Regions from separate parts of the Homo sapiens genome. Here region 2 is linked to region 1. Evidence: fine-mapped expression QTL. A gene starts in region 1. The other region holds a variant in brackets. All regions are shown on one strand. Distances are between the middles of the regions.

The links. PIP is the estimated chance that this variant, and not a neighbour inherited with it, causes the effect.
Region 2: its variant is the best candidate, but not a certain one, in a credible set for the expression of BBOF1 in subcutaneous fat (GTEx, PIP 0.84).

What each region holds. Positions count from the first base shown.
Region 1 is chr14:74,016,820-74,021,208 of GRCh38, reverse strand. It overlaps BBOF1 (basal body orientation factor 1), which reads right to left and starts at 1,860. Exons shown (of 12, transcript NM_025057.3): 1 at 1,675-1,860. The coding sequence starts at 1,730. ENTPD5 (ectonucleoside triphosphate diphosphohydrolase 5 (inactive)) reads left to right here and starts at 1,921. Exons shown (of 16, transcript NM_001249.5): 1 at 1,921-1,959. RefSeq lists silencers at 1,744-1,993, 2,024-2,093, 2,104-2,243, 2,284-2,353, 2,269-2,563.
Region 2 is chr14:74,040,267-74,044,655 of GRCh38, reverse strand. BBOF1 (basal body orientation factor 1) reads right to left here. Exons shown (of 12, transcript NM_025057.3): 5 at 4,011-4,091. Among named protein-coding and RNA genes, the nearest start is that of BBOF1, 23 kb to the right of the region's middle. RefSeq lists an enhancer at 151-320. The variant G/A (reference allele first, on the strand shown) is at 1,982.

The DNA of each region.
Region 1 (4,389 bases):
CTAAATATTTATTGTATAAGCATTAACAAAACACTCCCCCTTATATATGGTAGGTACCATGATATATAAATATGTACATATTTAAGAATATTTCACCTGTATTTGAATTCTAAATATTTTCACACATATGTACATGTGGACCTTTCTATACTGCCACCCTCCACATCCACTTTCCTACCTCTGGTTCTCAGTCCTCTTCCACAGAGGTAATGGGTTTGCAGTGGAGAGAACCAAAGTCCCACTTTCACCTTTTGTTCTCTTCAAATTAAGGCCAGCTCCATTCCCAACCCCTCAGCCTGTTATAGCTGTTGATGTCCCTTTCTGGCATGATTTAGGCACTAGTGATACACTGTCTCACTACGACCATCCAGGTATCAGGTCTGAGTGGCTCGAAGTACTTGATGCGACAGGGCATGGTGGCTCACGGCTGTCATCCCAGCACTTTGGGAGGCCGAGGCGGGTGGATCACCTGAAGTCAGGAGTTCGAGACCAGCCTGGCCAACATGGTGAAACCCTGTCTCCACTAAAAATAAAAAAATTAGCTGGGCGTGGTGACGGGTGCCTGTAATCACAGCTACTCGGGAGGCTGAGGCAGGAGAATTGGTTGAACCCAGAAGGCAGAGGTTGCAGTGAGCTGAGATCGTGCCATTGCACTCCGGCTTGGGCAACAAGAGCAAAACTTGGTGTCAAGAAAAAAAAAAAAGTACTTGATGCAAGAAATTAGACACTCTAATAGGACCACTGATACTCACTGTAGAAACAAAGCCAGGTTTCTCAAACAATGGGTCATGGAAAATCCAAGGAATAAGGTCTCTTACCCTTAGTGTTCCTCATTGTTCAAATGTGTACTGTAGAAGCATGGTCAAAATCTGAAAACATATGTTAGTGAGTTCTAGGAATGTGATAAGCCCTTGGCACTTTAAGGGCTAGACTAACTGTGCAGTTATGTAAAAACAAAAAAAAAATACCATAAAAGAATACTTACATTAACAAATGGGAAGAAAAAAGCCACATATAAGTATGTACATTGGGCTATCGTTTTATTAAAAAAGAATACTCCAAAATATAGTAGTGTTTATTTTTGGATAATGAGACTACAGGTGATTTTTGTTTTTTCTTTTGGTACTTCCCATGTTTCCCAAACTTTCTGTATTGAGCATGAATTACTCTCTTAAGTTACTTTACAAACATCTCAAGTTTGGTGCCAACTCTGTGTTCCCATATATGGTGTTGTTGCTGGACACCACGTATGACTCCAACGTGTCCAGAAACCACCGGGGTCCCCCAATAGGGCTAGTAGCAATCTAGCAGCAACTCCAGGCCTGTAAGGGGTTAGTGCTAGAACATTACCCACCTCAGTGGCTCTGATCAGTTTGGGAAAACCTCAATAATTATCCAACTTGGTAAAATACTTTAGGTGTCCCCTTTGAACCAAAAGAGATCTCTGAAAAGGCCCAAGGAACTACTTTATACATCCTCTACACGTTTAAGATAATCTGAACACATAGTAGAGATCTGCCAGACTATGGACATGGGAGCTGTAATCCTCACAAGCCGGGAGAGCCGGGGAGAGGGTCCGAGTGGGCCGGCGCGGGGGGCGCCAGGTTGCCAGCCCCAGACCCGAAATCCCAGGCAGGCCCAGGGAGAGGGGACTCTCGGGTGGCTTCTCCTTACTTCGTGTCTTTGCCTTTGCTCTTGCCTTTCTTTTTGTCCTTTCCCTTCGACGGCATCTTGGCTTCCCCAGGGGCTCCGCTGTCGTAGTTGCCCAGCCGCGGCCGCCCTGGCCAGCTCTGTCTCCAAGGGAACCGGGACGCCGAGCTGGCAATGCCCCACCCGCGCCGCTGACGGCGCGCGGAGAGCGCACGCGCCCGTGACGTAGCCCAGGCGCCGCGGCGCGCGGGGTGGGGCGGAGGTCGCGCCGAGGGCGGCGGGCTGCCGCGCAAGGGTGGCGCGCGCGCGGTGAGTGTGCGAGTGTCGGCGGCGCCGGATCCTCTACGTGGGGCCCGGGCTCTGCGGGCGGGAGGCGGGAGCTGGCAGCCCCAGGCGGTAGCGCTTCGTCCTGCGGCCTGGGTGTGTCAGGAGTCGCTGCGGTCGGGGCGCCCTTGCCTCAGGAGACTTAGATCCCCGCTGATCCGCCCGTCCCGCCGCAGTGGTCTGAGCCGCAGCCCTTTCCCGTGCCGCCCGCGGGTCCCGTTCCTCCCGTGTCTCCATGCCGCAGCCAGCGTGGCCGCGGCTACCTTGCCCTCGCCCCCGCTCCGCTTCTGCCGCTCCCGGCACTGCCTTACTCCTTTGGGTTGCATCTCTTTCCTGGCTTTTCACCCTTGCTGATTCTGTAAGGGATAGTGCAGCCAGCGGACGTCCCAGGCCAAATGTTTTTTGATAGGCAGTCGAGGACTTTCCCGAGGGCGGTGGTTGAGGGCGAGGCTGCCAGCCTCCGAAGAGCAGCGGCACGCCAGGGAGCCGGGCGGGGAGGGGAGTGCTGCCACCGAGGTCGGGAGCAGGGTCCTCGGCCTCACTAGGTCCTGTGTGGCCGATACTTCCTGCCCACGACCGCCCCCCGGATTTCCATTTGCTAATACCGGTCCGCAGCCTTCTTTCCTGAAAGTTGCATAAAGTTGGAAGCTCTTCAACTTGCCTCCCCGACTCCTGAAATCCCGAATACACCTCTGAAAAGGAGTGTACTCACAAGTATTCTCATTTTTCAATGAGAGTCAGTCAGTGAGTCATTAAGGAAGGTACGGTATTCTGAGTGCCAAGCCAATAGTTAGGAGACTTGTGGTTGAAGCTCTGCTCTGTTATACTCCATTTCAAATTAAAAAGTTTATTTTAAATGTGGTTGTAGATCCTTCGTCACCATTTCTCTAGGGAGGACTTAATCCGTACACTCCTTCCCGATGTCTTTGACCTCTAATTACTCCCCTCCGCCTTGTTTCCCACTTGCATAGTTTCTGTTTCTGAATTTCTGTTTCTTCTGAGGGAACATGCCGATTTGGTAATGATAAGCCTTGTAAACTTTTTTTTTTTTTTTTCTGAGAGAGAGTCTTCTGTCACCCAGGCTGGAGTGCAGTGGGGCATCTCGGCTCCCTGCAACCTCCACCTCCTTGGTTCAAGCGATTCTCCTGCCTCAGCCTCCCCAGTAAGTGGGACTACAGGTGCATGCCACCACACCCGGCTAATTTTTGTATTTTTGGTAGAGATGGAGTTTCACCATGCTGGCCAGGCTGGTCTCGAACTCCTGGCCTCAGGTGATCCACCTGCCTCGGCCTCCCAAAGTGTTGAGATTACAGGCGTGGGCCACCGCCCCGGCTGTAAACCTTTTTTTTGAGACAAGAGTTTTGCTCTTGTTGCCTAGGCTGGAGTGCAATGGCGCAATCTCGGCTCACCACAACCTCTGCCTCCCGGGTTCAAGCAATTCTCCTGCCTCAGCCTCCCCAGTAACAGACTATAGGTGCGTGCCACCATGCCAGGCTAATTTTTGTATTTTTGGTAGAGACAGAGTTTCACCATGCTAGCCAGGCTGGTCTTGAACTCCTGGCCTCAGGTGATCCACCCGCCTTGGTCTCCCAAAGTGTTGAGATTTACAGGCATGAGCCACCGCCCCCGGCTGTAAAATTTTTTTTTTTTTTTTTTGAGACAGAGTTTTGCTCTTGTTGCCCAGGCTGGAGTGCAATGGCACGATCTCGGCTCACCGCAACCTCCACCTCCCAGTTCAAGCGATTCTCCTGCCTCAGCCTCCCGAGTAGCTGGGATTACAGGCACACACCACCATCCCTGGCTAATTTTGTATTTTTAGTAGAGACAGGGTTTCTCCATGTTGGTCAGGCTGGCGTAAACCTTATTATACATACCATCTGCCAGCATGATCATGGCTTTTTCTTTTCTTTTTTTTTGAGATGGAGTTTCGCTCTTGTTTCCCAGGCTGGAGTGCAATAGCACGATCTCGGCCCACCGCAGCCTCCACCTCCCAGGTTCAAGCAATTCTCCTGCCTCAGCCTCCCGAGTAGCTGGGAATCCAGGCATGCGCCACCATGCCCGGCTACTTTTGTAATTTTAGTAGACACGGGGTTTCTCCATTTTGGTCAGGCTAGTCTCGAACTTCCAACCTCAGGTGATCCGCCCGCCTCGGCCTACCAAAGTACTGGGATTACAGGCGTGAGCCACCACGCCTGGCCGATCATAGCTTTTTCTGAGTGTATTTCTGGTATACTTTCACACTCCCGTGAGTCCATAGGCGGAATCGCCATATATTGAAGAGTTTATCTCTGATGTAAAATCTATAAAGTTACCATTAATTTTGTATGTGTAAGGTTCTGAAAAAGCACACTGTTGATAAGCTGCAGAAAAGAGAGTAGGGCATCTTCTGTCACAGGCTGTATATTTGGAATTTAT
Region 2 (4,389 bases), 23 kb before region 1:
CCGCGCCTGGCCAAAAAAAATTTTTTTTAATTCGGCATGGTGGTGTGCACCTGTGGTCCCAGCTACTCAGAAGACTGAGCCAGGAGGATTGTATGAGACTGGGAGGTAGAGGCTGCAGTGAGCCATGGTTGTGCCACTGCACTCCAGCCTGGGTGACTCTGTTTAAAAAAAAAAAAAAAAGAGAAGAGGTTGGTGACTTGCCCAAAGTCACAAAGCTAGTAAGTGGCAGAGCAGGGATTTATATGCAGGCAATCTGATGCTATACAGTCCCCTAACAAGTAAACAAATAAAAAGAATTAATAGACTGTGATAAATGCTATCAGTGAAATAAATGGGGTAATAAGGTAGATAGTAACTAGAGGAGGTCGTTTTATTATTTATTTATTTATTTATTTTATTATTATTGTTTTGAGACAGAGTCTCACTCTGTCACCCAGGCTGGAGTGCAGTGGCATGATCTCGGCTCACTGCAACATCTGTCTCCCGAGTTCAGGTGATTCTCATGTCTCAGCCTCCCAAGTAGCTGGGACTACAGGTGTGCACCACCATGCCCAGCTAATTTTTGTATTTTTAGTACAGACAGGGTTTCACTATGTTGGCCAGGCTGGTCTCAAACTCCTCTCCTCAAGTGATCCGCCGGCCTTGGCCTCCCAAAGTGCTGGGATTATAGGCGTGAGCCACCGTGCCCAGCCTCATTTTAGATTGGAGTTTAGGAAATCTCTCTCTAAAGAAATGATATCTGAGCTCTAAATAAGAATGATCCAGAGCTGGAGGAACAGCATTCCAGAAGGAGGGACTAGCAATATAAAAATATGGATGTAGAGGCCAGGAGTGGTGGCTCACACCTGTAATCCCAGCACTTTGGGAGGCCGAAGCGGGCAGGTCACCTGAGGTCAGGAGTTCGAGACCAGCCTGGTCAACATGGTGAAACCCTGTCTCTACTAAAAATACAAAAATTAGCTACTCAGGAGGCTGAGGCAGGAGAACCAGTTGAACCCAGGAGGCAGAGGTTGCAGTGAGCCGAGATCATGCCACTGCACTCCAACCTAGGTGACAAAGTGAGACTCTGTCTTTTTTTTTTTTTTTTTTTTTTTTTTTTGAGACGGAGTCTCGCTCTGTTGCCCAGGCCGGACTGCGGACTGCAGTGGCGCAATCTCGGCTCACTGCAAGCTCCGCTTCCCGGGTTCACGCCATTCTCCTGCCTCAGCCTCCCGAGTAGCTGGGACTACAGGCGCCCGCCACCGCGCCCGGCTAATTTTTTGTATTTTTAGTAGAGACGGGGTTTCACCTTGTTAGCCAGGATGGTCTCGATCTCCTGACCTCATGATCCACCCGCCTCGGCCTCCCAAAGTGCTGGGATTACAGGCGTGAGCCACCGCGCCTGGCCGACTCTGTCTTAAAAAATATATATATATAAATGTAGGACAGGGCTTTGTGATTCAAAGAATAGAAAGAAATAAATGGGAAAATCAAACCAAACACCAATGATCTGGGAAATCCTTTATATGGCCGGCTGGGGCATGCTGAGGTATAAAGTAAATGAACAGGCCGATTGGAAAGCCCAATGCCATGAAGCTGCAGCACCGGGGCTCAAACCAGCACAGGAGAAATATCCATGAAGTTTGTACCTAACATGGAGAGGCAGACCCTGCTGTGATGTCCAAACCAACATTCATTCCCATCCTTCTTTTTCCTCCCTAGCTTCCACTAATGGCGAGGAAAACAAACATTCACTTTCCCAGTAGTGTGTGTGTGTGTGTGTGTGTGTGTGTGTGTCTGTGTGTGTGTGTGTATAAGAGAGAGAGAGAGAAACAGAGCGAGAGAGAGAAAGAGGAAGAGAGAGAGAGAAGGACAGGGTCTTACTCTGTCATCCAGGCTGGAATACAGTGACACAATCATGGCTCACTGCAGCCCCGAATTCCTGGGCTCAAGCAATCCTTGAGCCTCAGTCTCCAGAGTAGGTGGGAGAACAGTGTGTGCC[G/A]CCCAGCATTCTTTATAACATGGTTCTGGTCAGTGAGATGTAAGATGAAATGTGCTAACAGCTTCTGGGAAAGTTGTTATGGCTTCCAGATAAAAGGGACAGACACAGCTGGAGCCTCCCTTCTTGTCTTGAACACAGAGCTTCAAACTGCAGTTAACTACCTTGTAACCATGAAGGAAAGGCCAGCAGCCATCTGCTCTCATATATAAAAATCCTATTTACATAAGCACTGTTACTCGGGTATTCTGTAAACTGACCAACTCTTTCTAACCTTTATTTTCTACACCAAGTAGAAAAGAGATCAAGATTAGGGTGGAATAGGAGAGGCTCCTGAGAACAGCCTATTCCTGAGGGCTTCCATTCCTGACAGTGCCAGGGAGGGTCTCAGAGGGAAAGCACCAGGGTGCTGCTCTTGCCTCATTTCCTCCAGGTTATTCCATACACAAACTGGAACCTAGAGCCACTTTCTATAGCAATTCCTTTTATCTAAACCCCATAGGAGCAAGGCATGGTAGCTCATGCCTGTGATCCCAACACTTTGGGAGGTCAAGGCAGAAGGATTGCTGGAGCCCAGGAGTTCGAGACCAGCAACATAATGAGACCCCATTTCAGTTTTGTTGTTGTTGTTGTTGTTGTTTGAGACAGAGTCTCACTTTATCACCCAGGATGGAGGGCAGTGGAGCAGTCTTGGCTCACTGCAACCACTGCCTCCTGGGTTCAAGCAATTCTCCCGTCTCAGCCTCCTGAGTAGCTGGGATTACAGGTGCACACCACCATGCCTGGCTAATTTTTGTATTTTTAGTAGAGATGGGGTTTCACCATGTTGGCCAGGCTGGTCTCAAACTTCTGGCCTCAAGTGATCCGCCCACCTTGGCCTACCAAAGTGCTGGGATTACAGGAGTGAACCACCACACCAGGCCCAGCAAGACCCCATTTCTACAAAAAATAAAAATTAGCTAGGTGTGATGATATATGCCTGTAGCCCCAACTACTTAGGAGGCTGAGGTAGGAGGATTGCTTGAATCCAGGAGGTGGAGGTCAAGGCTGCAGTGAGCTGTGACTGAACCACTGCACTCCAGCCTGGGCGACAGACAAGACCCTGTCTCAAATAAACAAGCAATCAAACAAAACCTCATTTGCCCCACCCTCAAGTGCCTACATTCCTACCAATTTCTGAAAGAATCTATTTAATTATTCCCTAAGAATAAAAAGTTAAAGAAAGGATTAAAATAAAGAACAACCATGAGGCCTCTGAAAGGATTCTGTAGAAGTGTTCCAGTGTACTTCCCACAATTTGGAGAGTTAACTTCAGAAACACAGAAATTAAGTTGGAGTTGGAAGCTGTGTTGTGCTAAGGAACTTTTTTTTATTTGAGAAGGAGTCTTGCTCTACCACCCAGGATGGAGTGCAGTGGTGCAATATCGCCTCACTGCAACCTCTGCCTCCTGAGTTCAAGCAATTCTTCTGCCTCAGCCTCCTGAGTAGCTGGGACTACAGGCATGTGCCACCATGCCCGGCTGATTTTTGTATTTTTGTAGAGATAGGGTCAGGCTGGTCTCGAACTCCTGACCTGAGACGATCCACCTGCCTCGGCCTCCCAAAGTGCTGGGATTACAGGCGTGAGCCACCGTGCCCAGCCTAAGCAACATTTTTTATTAACATCTTTAGCTCGGCTTGACTAAGGAAACATCTTTGCACACATACGAGAGTGATTTCTCCACTCCCATCTTCCCTATATAATGGGAGTACACATAGCTTTAGTCTCACCAGGGGAGTATCAAGCTGAGGGAGACATGTCCCAAAGCCTTCAGAAGAGGACAAGAATCTCTGAATGAGAGAGAAAACAAGGACTAGATATTGAGATTTCTAGAAGGTTTTATTTTCCCTCATTGTATTGTGCTATAATTTGGTAACAATCTTCTAATCTTCTATTAAGATACCAAATGGAAGGCTGATGTTTCAGAATGCATATAAATACACTTATGTTCTAGTAAACAAAACATTTTAAATTAACCCTAATAATCTGTACCTTTTCTTCAAAAAATCTGCTTTCCAGTCTTCTAAGAGTCTCCTGATGTATCCGCTCTGTGTTTCTTAAATTCTCTTTCAGCTAAAATTAAAATAACAAACAAACAAAAATGATCAATAGAAAATGGGGGTCATTGAGCACATTCTCAGAAAATTATCAATAAGGAAATGCTTTCTGTTATATGTTACCTCTTAATCCTGAACACACAGAAAAAATCTGTGTTCCTGCCTCCGAGTACCAAATTTCCCTCAATCTTCTACAGATTGATAACATTAGTACAGTAGTCCTCCTTATGTGCAGTTTCACTTTTTGCAGTTTCAGATAACTGCAGTCAATGATTTTTCAAAAATATTAAGAGGCTGAGCACGGTGGCTCACAC